Regions from separate parts of the Homo sapiens genome. Here regions 1 and 3 are each reported to be linked to region 2. The links are microRNA targets in miRTarBase. Many come from high-throughput screens and were not tested one by one. Region 2 holds a microRNA gene; each other region holds the end of a gene's coding sequence.

Evidence for each region. Region 2 holds the annotated microRNA hsa-miR-143-5p (GGUGCAGUGCUGCAUCUCUGGU, at 3,323-3,344, opposite strand). A microRNA usually pairs through its seed, bases 2 to 8, with sites in the 3' UTR of a target mRNA and lowers its output. Matches are read on the target gene's strand: a 7mer-m8 pairs with bases 2 to 8, a 7mer-A1 pairs with bases 2 to 7 and ends in A, and an 8mer does both.
Region 1: the mRNA of SIK2 is a reported target of hsa-miR-143-5p. Seed matches in the 3' UTR shown: 7mer-m8 at 5,049-5,055.
Region 3: the mRNA of ESCO1 is a reported target of hsa-miR-143-5p. Seed matches in the 3' UTR shown: 7mer-m8 at 3,540-3,546.

The regions. Positions count from the first base shown.
Region 1 is chr11:111,723,836-111,728,908 of GRCh38, forward strand. SIK2 (salt inducible kinase 2) reads left to right here. Exons shown (of 15, transcript NM_015191.3): 15 at 1-5,073. The coding sequence ends at 294. It also overlaps a transcript of PPP2R1B not described here. Among named protein-coding and RNA genes, the nearest start is that of PPP2R1B, 40 kb to the right of the region's middle. RefSeq lists an enhancer at 1-7.
Region 2 is chr5:149,427,213-149,432,287 of GRCh38, reverse strand. It overlaps MIR143 (microRNA 143), which reads right to left and starts at 3,370; the gene lies at 3,265-3,370. CARMN (cardiac mesoderm enhancer-associated non-coding RNA) reads right to left here. Exons shown (of 5, transcript NR_105060.1): 4 at 3,249-3,405. It overlaps MIR145 (microRNA 145), which reads right to left and starts at 1,642; the gene lies at 1,555-1,642. RefSeq lists an enhancer at 1,008-1,302.
Region 3 is chr18:21,525,927-21,530,999 of GRCh38, forward strand. It overlaps ESCO1 (establishment of sister chromatid cohesion N-acetyltransferase 1), which reads right to left. Exons shown (of 12, transcript NM_052911.3): 12 at 3,358-4,564. The coding sequence ends at 4,417. GREB1L (GREB1 like retinoic acid receptor coactivator) reads left to right here. Exons shown (of 33, transcript NM_001142966.3): 33 at 1-186. Among named protein-coding and RNA genes, the nearest start is that of ESCO1, 72 kb to the right of the region's middle.

The DNA.
Region 1 (5,073 bases), not on the chromosome of region 2:
CCACCACCACGACAGCCAGGAGCTGCCCCAGCCCCCTTACAGTTCTCCTATCAGACTTGTGAGCTGCCAAGCGCTGCTTCCCCTGCGCCAGACTATCCCACTCCCTGTCAGTATCCTGTGGATGGAGCCCAGCAGAGCGACCTAACGGGGCCAGACTGTCCCAGAAGCCCAGGACTGCAAGAGGCCCCCTCCAGCTACGACCCACTAGCCCTCTCTGAGCTACCTGGACTCTTTGATTGTGAAATGCTAGACGCTGTGGATCCACAACACAACGGGTATGTCCTGGTGAATTAGTCTCAGCACAGGAATTGAGGTGGGTCAGGTGAAGGAAGAGTGTATGTTCCTATTTTTATTCCAGCCTTTTAAATTTAAAGCTTATTTTCTTGCCCTCTCCCTAACGGGGAGAAATCGAGCCACCCAACTGGAATCAGAGGGTCTGGCTGGGGTGGATGTTGCTTCCTCCTGGTTCTGCCCCACCACAAAGTTTTCTGTGGCAAGTGCTGGAACATAGTTGTAGGCTGAGGCTCCTGCCCTTCGGTCGAGTGGAGCAAGCTCTCGAGGGCAGCACTGACAAATGTGTTCCTAAGAAGACATTCAGACCCAGGTGTTATGCAGGATTACATCCGTTTATTATCAAGGGCAACCTTGGTGAAAGCAGAAAGGGTGTGTGCTATTGCATATATATGGGGGAAAAGGCAATATATTTTTCACTGAAGCTGAGCAACCACATATTGCTACAAGGCAAATCAAGAAGACATCAGGAAATCAGATGCACAGGAAATAAAGGAAAGCTGTGCTTTGTCATTGAATCCTAAGTTCTTAGCTGCTGATGCAAGTTGTCCCCCAAGGCCATCACAAAGCAGTGGGGCATGAGCTGTGTTTCAGGGGCCACTAAATAACAGCTGGTACTGACCCCAGAAACCGCCTTCATCTCCATTCGGAAGCAGGTGACACACCCCTTCAGAAGGTGCCCTGGGTTGCCGAGTGTCAGAATATACTCAGGACTCCAGAGGTGTCACACGTGGAACTGACAGGAGACCCGCCACCGTGGAGGCAGGGGGCAAGAAACTCAAGAACGCATCAAGAGCACCAGCCCTGGGCCAGGGAAGACAGGCTCTTCCTGCAGTTTCTCGTGGACACTGCTGGCTTGCGGGCAGTCGGTCTCCAGGGTACCTGTTGTCTCTTTTCCGATGTAATAACTACTTTGACCTTACACTATATGTTGCTAGTAGTTTATTGAGCTTTGTATATTTGGACAGTTTCATATAGGGCTTAGAGATTTTAAGGACATGATAAATGAACTTTTCTGTCCCATGTGAAGTGGTAGTGCGGTGCCTTTCCCCCAGATCATGCTTTAATTCTTTCTTTTCTGTAGAAACCAACAGTTTCCATTTATGTCAATGCTAAATCCAAAGTCACTTCAGAGTTTGTTTTCCACCATGTGGGAATCAGCATTCTTAATTTCGTTAAAGTTTTGACTTGTAATGAAATGTTCAAGTATTACAGCAATATTCAAAGAAAGAACCACAGATGTGTTAACCATTTAAGCAGATCATCTGCCAAACATTATATTACTAATAAAACTTAACCAACACTTACAATTCAGTCATCAAAGTAAGTAAAAATTAGATGCTACAGCTAGCTAACTGTATCCCTAGAAATGATGAATAATTTGCCATTTGGACAGTTAACATCCAGGTGTTACAAAGTCAGTGTTAATTCTAAAGATGATCATTTCTGCCCTTTAGAATGGCTTGTCCCATCAGCAGATGAATGTGTTAAGCACAAAGCATCTTCCTTAAAGCACAAAGAGAGGGACTAACTGATGCTGCATCTAGAAAACACCTTTAAGTTGCCTTTCCTCTTTGTAGTTAGCGTTCAGGCAGGTGACGTGTGGAAAGTCTAGGGGGTTCCATTCTGGCCATGCGAGCCCAGCTCCTACCAACGTCGGTAACTTGAGCAGTCCCTGTTGCTGGCCAGAGACTGCCTGGTCGCCAGCGCTCACCATGGGTGCCAGGATGCTTCGCAGAGGCACTGTGCTCACGGTTGGACTTGGTGTCAGTGGGAAAGGGCAGTGTGGGGACTGTCATTTTTGTGATTTAATAACACACAGTGAAAATCCAGGAAGAATGAATTAAGCTTCTTCTGGGAGTTGTTTATTCCTGCTCGTGCTTAAGATTGATGATTTCGTGAAATAAAGAACATCATTTCATTTAAGAGATCATTTCATTAAGATCTCTAATCTGTTTTGAGTCTTTACAAAATAGCCAGTTATAAAATGGGGCTTGATTTGTTTAGACTGAAGGAAGACGTTTTCCCAAAATATACTACAGAAGTGCTACAATATTTGCGATATTAAAATGCCTGCAGATTGAAAATGGGGGCCACTCATTTCAGAACTGCAGGAATGGTGTAGTTACAGATCGACATAAACTCCTGCCCCCCAACAATGCCATGAGCTGCTTAGCCCAGGAGACCTGGGAGCTATGGCAGGACGGTTAGGCCAGCCGATGAGGGACTGCAGAGAGGCTACTGGAAGGTTAAGGACCCAGAGAGAAATCGAGAGGTGCCCTACAGCAGCCAGGCCTATCAGGATCCGTCACACACGGCAGCGGCGTGGACACCGGCCTGATGCAGAGCGTGACCCCTCCTGCTGGGACCTGTGTTGTAAGCTCCTATTTGCTTATCTTGTTTATTTCAAGCAGAAATCAATAAATTCCATAACCCTCTGTATTGACTGCAATGTAAGCTGCTGAGGAGACTGGTTCTGTTGGTCAGTCAGGTGTTTGCTCAGCCCTGTCTGATCACCTGTGCTGCTCTGTCCCTAACTAGTGACCCATGGAAGCTTCCAAGCAGTTTTCTCTTCATCACTACTAACAAACAAAACACTAAGAAGGCTTAGTATCGCTCTTTTTCTGCGGGGCTACTCTGAAGTACTGACTTGCTTTCCAGTCTGATTCACGTTAGCAGTGTGTACACTACTGTATCATCATCAGCTTCATCACCCTGTAAACCAGGCTCCTCTGAAGAGACTTTGGTGAGATGAACGTGAGGTAAAAATTTCGTTCGGCAAAAAGTGCAATATGTGTGGTACTTTATTTTTTATGTTCTTTTTTTAAATCTGGGGTATTAGTCTGTGCTTTGGGAGAAATGCACTAGCTCTGCAATTCCCAGCTGGGCAAGTGTGTCTCTAGTATCTCCACGCAACTGATACACTGGTCCCTGTAAGGCAAACAGCATGTTAGCCCGACAGGAAGAGGGGGCCCACTTTCACATTCCCGGTGACACTGACCGTCCCCAGCTGCCCCCTCGCCACCTCTGCCTGCACTGCCTTCTGTCACCGTGGGAAAAGGAGGCTGATGGTTCTCTACACCATCCACCTTGAGAATCCCTGCGTGGGAGAGCATCAGGGCCCACCAGGGGAGTGGGGATGGGGCTCAGGGGCTGTTCATGCCCATCTGAGCAAACCCCTTCTCTCTTCCATCCACTTTTGCCTCCTAGGAAAGAAAAAGTCAGTGGCCCTTTCTTCCTCAGATATCAAGAACTCCCAAGTGTTTAAACCGTATGCTGGAGTCAGTGGTTGGGACAGACAGGAGCCCAAGACTGAAGCCAGCCCTTGCCTCTTGTGTCCCTTCCCAACTCTGGTGCTGGAGTAATGGGGTGCTCTGCATTTTGATGGGGAGCAAGGGGGGACCCCCCCTGTAGGAGTATCGGCCTCTCCCCTGCCCCCTACCCTCTCTCGTGGACCAAAGTCTCCAGCAGAAGAGACTCATCATAAGACTGACGACTCCCCCACCTCCACCCACACACCGAGTGTCATCAGTCCTAAAGGCAGGGAAACGCTCACAGAATTCTGCCCACGGGTTAGATGTGGGGAGAAGGATATTCTCAGCTCCAGAGTGATTAGGTGATCAGCCAGAAACTAAGGCAAGGTGACAAGCAGCAGCCTGGAGTCACAGTTGGTCCCAGGCGTGTGGGCACTAAGCAGCCTCTGGAGACATGCGGGCAGTTGAGGATGCAAGGACACAGTGAGTGAGTGGCGCTCCTTTTTGGGGTCCTCCAGCCTCTAGTCAAGCCCCAGGTTCGTAAATATGTTTGTATTACATTTTAAAACCTGTATCAACAGTCACATTTAAGCTCCCTATTGGTTTAAAGAAAATTCATACTCCAGGTAACTTTTTCCCATTCGACCTCCTATAGAGACAATATGCAGTGTGTCATTTCACAGTCTCAGTCCCTGTGAACAGTGGCTGACACCGGTGCCAGGGCTGACCTGCTACACTCAAACTCCTAAACTGGGCTGCCTCTAACTGCCTCCTGGGAAGCCACCCGAGCCACTCGGTCTCTTTGTGCCTAAACATGAAAGGTGAAAATTGGAGAACAGGGAAGCTCGTAAGTTGGAGTCATTGTACAGGCAGGGATCTTTGATCATTTTGTTGCTTCTGGAATTTATTTAATTTTTTTTTTTTTTGAGACAGAGTCTCGCTCTGTCACCCAGGCTGGAATGCAGTGGCGTGATTTCAGCTCACTGCAACCTCCACCTCCTGGGTTCAAGCCATTCTCCTGCCTCAGCCTCCCAAGTAGCTGGGACTACAGGTGTGTGCTACCGCATCCAGCTAGTTTGTATATTTTTAGTAGAGATGGGGTTTCACCATGTTGTCCAGGCTGATCTTGAACTCCTGACCTCAGGTGACCCACCCACCTTGGCCTCCCAAAGTACTGGGATTACAGGTGTGAGCCACCACACCCGACCTGGAATTTTTTTATAGAACTTATCTTCAGAGCAATGTATGAAAGACAAGAGCAGTATCAGCCGGGCGCGGTGGCTCACGCCTGTAATCCCAACACTTTGGGAGGCCAAGGCAGGCGGATCACGAGGTCAGGAGATTGAGACCATCCTAACACAGTGAAACGCCGTCTCTACTAAAAATACAAAAAATTAGCCGGGCGTGGTGGTGGGCGCCTGTAGTTCCAGCTACTCGGGAGGCTGAGGCAGGAGAATGGCGTGAACCCGGGAGGTGGAGCTTGCAGTGAGCCAAGATCGTGCCACTGCACTCCAGCCTGGGCGACAGA
Region 2 (5,075 bases):
TTCTGGGGCCTTGGCACTTACTACCATTTCTACATCTCCATGAAAAGCCCTAGCAAGAGTACGGGGAAAGTTCTAATTTTTTTTTTTTTGAGACAGAGTTTCGCTTTTGTCCCCCACGCTGGAGTGCAGTGGCGCGATCTCAGCTCACTGCAACCTCTGCCTCCCGGGTCCAAGCAATTCTCCTGCCTCAGCCTCCTGAGTAGCTGAGATTATAGGTGGCCACCACCATGCCCAGCTAATTTTTTGTATTTTTAGTAGAGACGGGGTTTTGCCATGTTGGGCAGGCCGGTCTTGAACTCCTGACCTCGTGATCCACCCGCCTGGGCCTCCCAAAGTGTTGGGATTACAGGTGTGAGCCACCGCGCCCGGCCGGAAAGTTCTGATTTTGCACCTGGATTACATTAGGTCTTCTGTCATTCAGTTAGTTAGCATTCTCTATAGGCAGTCAGAGAGGCTGACTTTTAAAATTATTTAGGTATTTTTTAGAGACAGGGTCTCCCTATCTTGCTCAGGCTGGAGTGCATTGGCTATTCACAGGCACAATCATAGCTCTCTGCAGCCAGGAACTCCCAAGCTCAAGTGGTCCTCCCCCGTCGGCCTCCTCAGTAGCTGGGACTGTAGGCACTCACCACTGTGCCTGACTTTTTATTTTTGTAGATTTTGCTTTTGGCTAAGAAATTGCCATAGGCCATTGGACTTGAAATCAGCGCTGGCCCTGCCTTTTGCTGTCTGGGCGACCTTGGGCTGGCCACTTTACCTCTCTGAGCCTCACTGATCCCACAGATCTACGTAAGGAGGGCTTTGAGGATGAACCAGCCTGTGGAAGTAAATGAGAGGAAGTGATGGGGGCATTGCTGGTGGTGCAACAATGGAGAGGGTTTCAGTAGTCACTGGCTCAAAAGTGAGGGGGCAAAAGGAACCTCAGTGTGTGTGTGTGTGTGTGTGTGTGTGTGTGTGTGTCCAACGTCTTGTAGCAAGGTTAGCAATCACCATGTGTAGGGGAAGAGCCATAGTGTTCCTAGGGTGGGTAGAGATGCCACAAGAGGGCGTTCTGAGTTTTCATCTTCTCTACCTTGAAAAATTTTCCATTTGTTCTCTGGCTGCATTCCAAATCGAACGAAGACTTAAGGTTTTTAGTTTACCTAACTGATTGAATACACTTTTAAAATGAATTCATGTGTGTTTACTAGTTTATCAGTCATGTGGATGCAATACCGCAGCCCCTGTCGCAAGGCGCGTTGGGAAGTGGGTTGAGGGTGTGGTGGAGACAAGAAACGCATGCCTGATGGTGTCCTGGTTCAACCGCTGCTCAGCCGGGTGGCCTTGGACAAATTTCCCAAGAGTACGGCAGTGCTGAAGTTCCCACATCCAGCCTCACAGGGATGTTATGAAATAGACACGATGGAAAGAAAAGCAACGCAAAGGTTTGGAACATGGTTCATAAGCCCTCTTACCTCCAGGGACAGCCTTCTTCTTGAACCCTCATCCTGTGAGCCAGCCGAGGCCCCATTGGGGGGCAACTGTGGGGTGGGAAGGAGGCAAATCCAGCTGTGAAACCATGACCTCAAGAACAGTATTTCCAGGAATCCCCATCTTAGCATCTAAGGGATTCCTGGGAAAACTGGACCGTGAGGACAAGGTGGGAGCGAGTGGCCTTCAGCGCCAAGGCCGCCGTGTCCCTAAGGACCAGCTGGAGTTCTCTTCTGCATCCAGCCCCATCTGTAGCAGCCAGGGTGGGGTGCCACACGTCGCCGGATGTGGCTTATTGCTCTGGGGGGGAGTAGTGACCGGAACTTCAATTGCCCTGAAAAGTACCGGAAACCCTCTGGCGCCCCCACCCCCAGGACTGCCCTCTGCTGTCTGCACGGCTCATGTGTATTCCCCAGTCTCCTGCCAGAGGGGTGGATTTAAACCAACCATTCAGTTCCTAGCCTGGGTTTGGCAACTTCCTCTCTGATAACCTCCAGTAAGTCACTTAACCCCTGAGCCTTGGCCTTCTTTAATTATAAAATGCATGAGTCCACGACCTACTGGAGAGGTGAGATGAATAAGATTGGGGGAAGGGGGTAGGAGGAAGGAAGCCTGTAGTATTAATGGCAAGTGTCCGGGTCTGTCTTTGCTAAAAGTGACCTGAGATGTAAAGACAAGATGGGAGCAGAATTTAGAATGTTCTCCTCCTGCTCCTCGGTCCCAGGTTCCATAATCACATGCAATGGGTAAAAACATGGATTTGAAGGCAGATTAGGGTACAATCTCAGCTCAGCACAATCAATATGTGACTTTAGGTGAGCTGCTTAAATAAGCCTCAGTTTTTCTCATCTGTAAAATGGGGCTATAACACCACCCACTTCCCAAGCTTTTGGGGAGGTTAAATGAGACTGTGCTTGGCTCCATGGCTCTCCTCTGCTGCTCATTGTGCTTCTGAAGCCTCTGGGAGAAGTCAGACATTTGTGACGTGCCTGGACTGGTTTCGGCAATACCCCGGAGCCAAGGTTAGAAGTACAGAGTGAAGACCCTGACTCAAAGGCCAGAATTTTTATCTTCAGGGCTGAAAGGGTTTTTAGGAATTGTTTGATCCACAAATGATGAATGAGTTTCAGCTGTGAATCAGTACTAGTGGCTTTCCAGGGCTCATTGTTGAGGATTCTGAAGCTGCATCTGAGCACTTCAAGAATGGATGCCTGGCGGGGCGTGGAGGCTCATGCCTGTAATCCCAGCACTTTGGGAGGCCGAGGCGGGCAGATCACCTGAAGTCAGGAGTTTGAGACCAGCCTGGCCAACATAGTGAAACCCCATCTCTACTAAAAATACAAAAATTAGCCAGGTGTGGTGGCGCACACCTGTAATCTCAGCTACTTGGGAGGCTGAGGCACGAGAATTGCTTGACCCTGGGAGGAGGAGGTTGCAGTGAGCTGAGATTATGCCACTGCACTCCAGCCTGGGTGATGGAGTGAGACTGTGTCTCAAAAAAAAAAGAATATATGCCTTTACTGATTAGCTGTGTCTGCCATGGGCTCAGAAAGAGAAAGCAGAGGCAGGGTGCTGGGGAAATGCTAACGCCTCATGCTAAGATGGACACACTGGGGTACACAGAGGAGTCAGGACATGCCCAGACTCGTGAAGCAGATCGTGGCACCAGGGGAACTTGTGTAGAGGAACTTCCCCAGCATCACAAGTGGCTGATAGTATGGAGTCTGGAAACACTCTGTCCTTCCTGTTATGGCCCCCCACAACCCCCCAGCACTTACCACTTCCAGGCTGATGGCTGCAGAACAACTTCTCTCTTCCTGAGCTACAGTGCTTCATCTCAGACTCCCAACTGACCAGAGATGCAGCACTGCACCTCAGGCTGGGAGACAGGGCGCTGCGCTGCTCCGCTCTGGTGGCCTGTGGCGGGACTCCAACCTGGCCAGGAGAAGGGGTGTTAGAGGGGACCTGGGCTCCACCTCTCCAGCTCTGGCCGGGAGGCTGTTGTAATTCCTCACAACTGTGTTTCCTGTCTGTGGCCTGCCATTTGAGCACCCAGGACCAAACCTTGACCTTTTTTCTCTTCTTTTCTTTGTTTCTTTCCTTTTCTTGTCAAGAACAGCTTAATTTAGAAGGAGGACATTTAGTGAGTACAATTAACAGGTTTTTAATATATTCACAAAGTTGTGCAAACAATGGCACAATATATTTTAGGTTATTTCACCATCCAAAAAAGAAGCTCCTTATCCTTAGACAACCCCTAGTCCTGGGCAGACCAGTTTCTATCTCTATAGATCTGTCTATATATTTTCTGGATATTTCAATACATGGAATTATTTAATATGTTGACCTACCTTTTGATGCCATGCCCCACCTTTATGCTTGGCGCATTCCAGCCTAACAGCATCATTCATGGTACTTAACATTTTATATCATCGAGCAATCAATTGTCTCCAACCTATCTTTCTTCTGCCACTCCTCCTCTCTTCCCAGCCATCTTCCCATAATGATTTTTCAAGATGCAAATATGCTCATATCTTACTCAAGTTTAATATCCCAAAAGGGCTCCCCATTGCCCTCAGGCTGAATTCTGAAGCCCTTCCCAAAGCCTGCGAGGGTCTGCCGCATCTAGCCCCAGTGACCTCTTCCTCTTGGGCTACAGCTCATAGATGTCCTTCCATTCTCCTAGGGAGCCCTGTGCCCACCCACTTCGGGCTCCCAGGGACTGTGCTGCTCCCCGTCACTCTCCCTGCCCATCTCTTCCTCCTGTGCTAGGTCTCTAATCAAGTGGCCACTCTGGGAAACCCTCCTTGACTTTTTTTTTTTTTTGAGACAGAGTCTCCCTCTGTCGCCCAGGCTGGAGTGCAGTGACACGATCTCGGCTCACTGCAAACTCCACCTTCCGGGTTAAAGCAATTCTCATGCCCCAGCCTCCCAAGTAGCTGGGACTACAGGCGTGCACCACCATGCCTGGCTAATTTTTGTATTTTTAGTAGAGACAGGGTTTCACCACGTTGCCCAGGCTGGTCTAGAACTCCTGACCTCAGGTGATCCACCCGCCTTGGTCTCCCAAAGTGCTGGGATTATAGGCATGAACCACAGTGCCCAGCCCCTCCTTTACTTCTTTAGCCATCAGCACCCCCTGCTTCATGTTCTCGCCCACCCGGTGCCCTCTTTCTAACCCTTTACCATGCTGGTAATGTGGTTTTCACTTACGACCACCTCCACTTGTGGACTACATGGCTCACCTGTGAAGGGAAGGGACCCTGTCAACTGTGCTCACTACTGAAATCAGGGCCAGGTGGTGTAGATGCCACATAAGCCCAGGTTGAATGGCTGAATCATAATTCCCAATCTCATTATCTCTAGTATCAGTGTTATTTGTGTGTGGGTCTGACCTGGCTAGATCTCCACTTCCTGAGGACAGTGCCTGTGTCTTGTTAATTTGGGGGGCCCTGGGTCTGACCTGTGGCTTGGTACATGATGATGGACCTAGGTAATGCCATTTGGTGGCTGATTGGATGACCATGTAGATAATTCATTTTGTTTTCTGGGCCCGGCTTGGGTGGGAACTTTCAGGTGAGCAGGCAAAGCCCCTTCTCACTCTT
Region 3 (5,073 bases), not on the chromosome of region 2:
AAATATTTGTAAGTGTAATGACAGACTTTCAGAGGAAAGTAAAGACTACTGGTGTTCCACTATACATTCCAAAGCAGCTGCCTTGAAAAGACTATTAATTAACTGTGAAACTGACTGCTGCAACATCACACTAAACTACTTAGGCCTGAAACAACATCCAGAGAACGAACATTTATCAAGCTTCTCTTTAGACACAGAAACTGGAAATTGGCCCTTAAAGCTTCCTCTGAGTCTAGGAGAATACTACTCTAACACTGAAACCTTGGCTTCACTGAAAACAAAACAACAACAGTAAAAATACTGCTAAAGATGACTTTAGGAATTGCCGCTAAGGCCAAAGAAAAAGTCATTCACATAATAAATTCACTGTGCTCTCAACTATCAAGTGTTGTTGAGTTAAAGCATCTACTTCAGTGACTATGACAATAGATGATGGTATTAAGTTAAAAAAAAAAAAAAAAGGCAACACCAGTAAGTTCTTTTCTGACCACTTCATTCCACATATTTTATTTTTACTAGTCCAGTGTATTTTATTTTTACCAGAAGGGTGGGGGTGGGGGGTTGCTAAAAGACAGAACTCATCCCTTTTTCTGCCTAAAGACTCAGGAGCCATGAGAAAGAAAATGTATGTCTAGAGTCACTACCCTAGAAATCAACTCACTCAGCAATCTCAACCCTAGCTGCAATGTGGATGGGCAGGAATACAGCTGTGTTCCCATCCAGAAGGATAAGACTCTATAGCTGGGCAGCCGTGCAAAGTAAACAAGAACAATTAAAATAACACTGCAGGTTTGTTGTACTCACTGACTGTCCTTACAACAGTCAGGCTTTCAGTAGATAAACCAAGTTCACTCTTGCATATTATGAAGTAGTAAAATACTGCTTTTTATCTGTGTGTCCATGCAGATAAAAGCATCGCCCATAAAATCTTGTAGTTCCTGACTATATTTGTGGCTCTTACCATGTCTCTATGCTAGATATTTTTATAAACAACCAACAACTACATGAGGGCTGCTAACAAAAAATCTATAAGCACCTTTATATAGTCAGCAATTACAGACTCACCCTCTTCTACAGTCTGTGGCCATTAGTGTACACTCACCGTGTCCCTGCTGCCTCCACCACTCCACTGAGACTGCTCTTTTCCTAACATCACTTGGGCTCTCTTCAGTCTTCAACTGTGGTATGACAGGGTTGATCATTCTTTGATTCTTGACATTTTTCCCTTGGTTTCTACCACTCTCTTCTGGCTCTCCTACCTTGCTGCTCATGCCTTCTTAGGCAGTCTTCTTTGAGACTCTTAAATGATGGTGTACCTCACAACTCTCTTCTACCTTCTCATTTTACAAACCCCAGGGTGACCTTGTGAACCTTCAAATAAATAAGTGAACTCATAAATTTGTTTCTCAGTTAGAACCTTTCTGAAACTCTAGATTCACATATCCAATTGTATACTAAAAGGTTTCTCCACTTAAGAGACTCTTTCTACAACCACCTTAAAATCTTGACCAAAACTGAGGACATCCCCATCCAATCCTCCCAACCTAATTCCCCTGTATTCCCATCTGTCAATCTAATTCAATTACCCAAACCAAAATTCCCACTTACCTTAACCTCTTTGCCATGATCTTTTTCTGGTTGTTTATAAATTCCTATCAATTCAACTGTGTCAATTCTTCAATTTTATCTTTTCAATGTGTATCTGTCTCGTCTTCATCTCCACATCACAGCTTTAGTTCAGTGTTTCAACACTTTTCACACAAACGGCTCTTAATTATCATCTAAGTTCCAGATTCCTCAATTATAAACCCTACCTCATAGGACTGTCGTAATGATTACATAAAATAATGCAGGACTAAACACACAGGGTCTGACACATAGCAAACACTCAAATGTTAGGTATTAACTAATAATACTATTCTTAGAGAAATACCTAAATTGTAAAATTTGGGAGGCTATATCTTCAGTATAAACATGAAAATAAACTGGTTTCTCAGTAATAATAACATATAAACCAACCACCCAATATACCCTCTTCCACCTCCAGGTCACCTTGAAACCAAGTCAAAAGTAGTCAAAGTAGTATACTATTGTTTATGGAAATTGGACCTGTATTATGGGATTAACAGTTACTAGAGAGTCTACACTATATCCCAAAATTTCATTCTGTTTTTTTTTTTTTTTTTTAAATCATGGTACCTGTCAGGCAAACAATGAGACCAGGATTGACTAGAACAGTCTCAAGCCCAAAGGGAAATGACAGTATCAAAAGCTAGGGCCAGGTGCAGTGGCTCACACCTATAATCTCAGCACTTTGCGAGGCCGAGGCAGGTGGACCACGTGAGGTCAGGAGTTCAAGACCAGCCTGGCCAATGTGGTGAAACCCTGTTTCTACTAAAAAATACAAAAACAAATTAGCCGGCCGTGGTGGCAGGTGCCTGTAATCCCAGCTACTCTGGAGGCTGAGGCAGGAGAATCGCTTGAGCCTAGGAGGTGGAGGTTGCAGTGAGCTGAGGTCATGCCATTGCACTCCAGCCTGGGTGACAGAGTGAGCCTCTGTCTCAAAAAAAAAAAAAAAAAAAAAAAAAAGCTAGACCAGCTTGATGAATCACGGGGAAATATTTACCGTGCCCTATCATTCTACCCATACAAAATGTAGAGTCTTATACCACTCTAGAAAAAAAAATTTTTTTTTGAGGTGGAGTTTTTTGCTCTTTTTGCTCAGGCTGGAGTACAATGGTGCAATCTCTGCTCACTGCAATCTCCACCTCCCAGGTTCCAGCTATTGTCCTGCCTTAGCCTCCTGAGCAGCTGGGATTACAGGTGCATGCCACCAAAACCAGCTAATTTTTGTATTTTTAGTAGAGACGGGATTTCACCATATTGGTCAGGCTGGTCTCGAACTCCTGACCTCGTGATCCGCCCGCCTCAGCCTTCCAAAGTCCTGGGATTATAGGCGTGAGCCACCGCGCCTGGCCTAGAAATTGTAAAAGCAAAAATTTATAGGGAAATAAAATGTATACCTGTTAATTTAAGGCCCTAAATTTTAGCCAGTTTTCAACTGAGATATGATCATTTCAGCTCACAAAAATAACCTAAGTTGAACCACAGTGGTAATTCATTCTTGGGCTGTGGGCCCTTCATTTATTTGCAACATCATAAAAGTACTATGTTACTAAAATAATCAGAAAGGATTTTGCCTTTGGAAATAAAGTTCAGCTGATTTGCTGCTGACACAATGATCCTTTGGCAAACTGGTGGAAACTGCCTTTAGGAAGCCAATGTTTTAATCATATTTCAAGATATCAAACCAAAAAAACACCCTGAAAAAGCACAAATGACAACACACCATTATTCTCAGTTAGTACATTGGTCACTTAGAAAAAGCTATCAAGTATTTTATTATTTTTATTCTACATTATATACAGGTCATAAAAGGCCACAGCAGTTTTTCAACATATAAACCCTTTAAAAGTAGAGGGCACTATGAAGGATAGACAAGTATCAAAATGAAGTCCAGTAATGAGGGCATATACTCAGTGCAGTATTTCTGAGGAATAACAAAGCAGATACCGAGTCATCCATACTTTGCTTCCAAGTATTCTATACGTTTTTATAAACCTCTTTGAGATTTGTTAACAGCCTAGGTGTGCCAAGTTGCCATTTATTTTAAAAGTGAAACCAGAATGAAAGAATAATGAATCTAGGAGGGTACCTTTCCTAATGCTTGTCATTTACAGCTCTCCAAGAAGGAAAGCCTCAATTCTTTACCACTTTCTACTTCCTCCTTCCATCAAAGATAGGAAAGAGAAAAATCAGGAAAAAAAAGCTCAATATTCTAATTCTTCCTATTTAGCTGGAGCTTTCCTTTTCTATAGGGGTTTCTTCAAAGTATAGTTCAGGCCTTTTAAAAATTAGCTTCAAATTCCAAAACACTTAATATTGCACCCTCCTTGAACAATAACTAAAAAAATTGGTTTCCACTCTGTGAAAATACAATCTTTAAGCCTATCACTGGTATCAGCAGATCAATATAAAAAAATACAGTACCAAGCTACACTGGTATATTTCCATATTAAGAACTTCAAAATATACTTATCACTGAGACCATAGTCCTTGCATTAGTTTTCAGTCCACTATGAACAATTATCTGCTGCATGTAAACATGTCTAAATAACTATAGATAAAATACATCAATCATAAATTTCTGTAAAAGATAATAAAATATCTTCTTTAAAAAACAAAACAATAAGCTATTACTGCATTGTTTCCAATTTTATGAAAATGGAACAACCATATGGTTGTTGCCAGTCCTGAGTTCATTGTAATAAAAATGGCCCTAGTTCCTGGTTAAAGTCAGCAACCAATCCATTCTCTTCAATAGATGTCTTCTAGTGGTGTAGGCAAGAATTTGTTTTACGTGCTATTCTGTCCATTAATAAAATTATATACCAGAAATTGACCAGTGCCACAGTACTGTGTTGCAAACAGCTTTCCATCAGGAGTGGGATCTGAGAAAGCAATTTCTTCTTTGCTCAAATATGAGCCATATATAAAGTTACTCCTATTAAAAAAAAATGGGGGGGGGGAAGGGTTAAGTGTGAAATGTTAAAAAAAAAAAAATTCTAATCATTAAAACTGGAATAACCTGTCAAATACAATTTGACTAAAAAAGCTTTTTAGATACTGCTGTATGTGCTCAAAATTTTTGAAAATAATTATTCATCTATAATATCAATAACCTGAGGTTAAATTTTAATAAAAGCAACAATGTAAAAACATTTACCCAACATCTTTTCATGATAAAAATATTCAACTAAGAGTAGAAATATTTCCTCAACCTGATCAAAGACATCAAGGAATATCAGAGTTAATGGTGAATGACTGAAAACTGTTCCTCAAAGATCAGGAATAAGAGAAGACTACTCTCACCTCTTCTATTCAATATTGTATTGGAGGTTCTCGTCATGAGGAAAAGAAATAAAAATCATCCAGATTGGAAAGAAAGAAATAAAACTATCTCTTTTGCAGATGAAAAGGCCTTGTTTATAGAAAATCCTAAAAAATTCACAA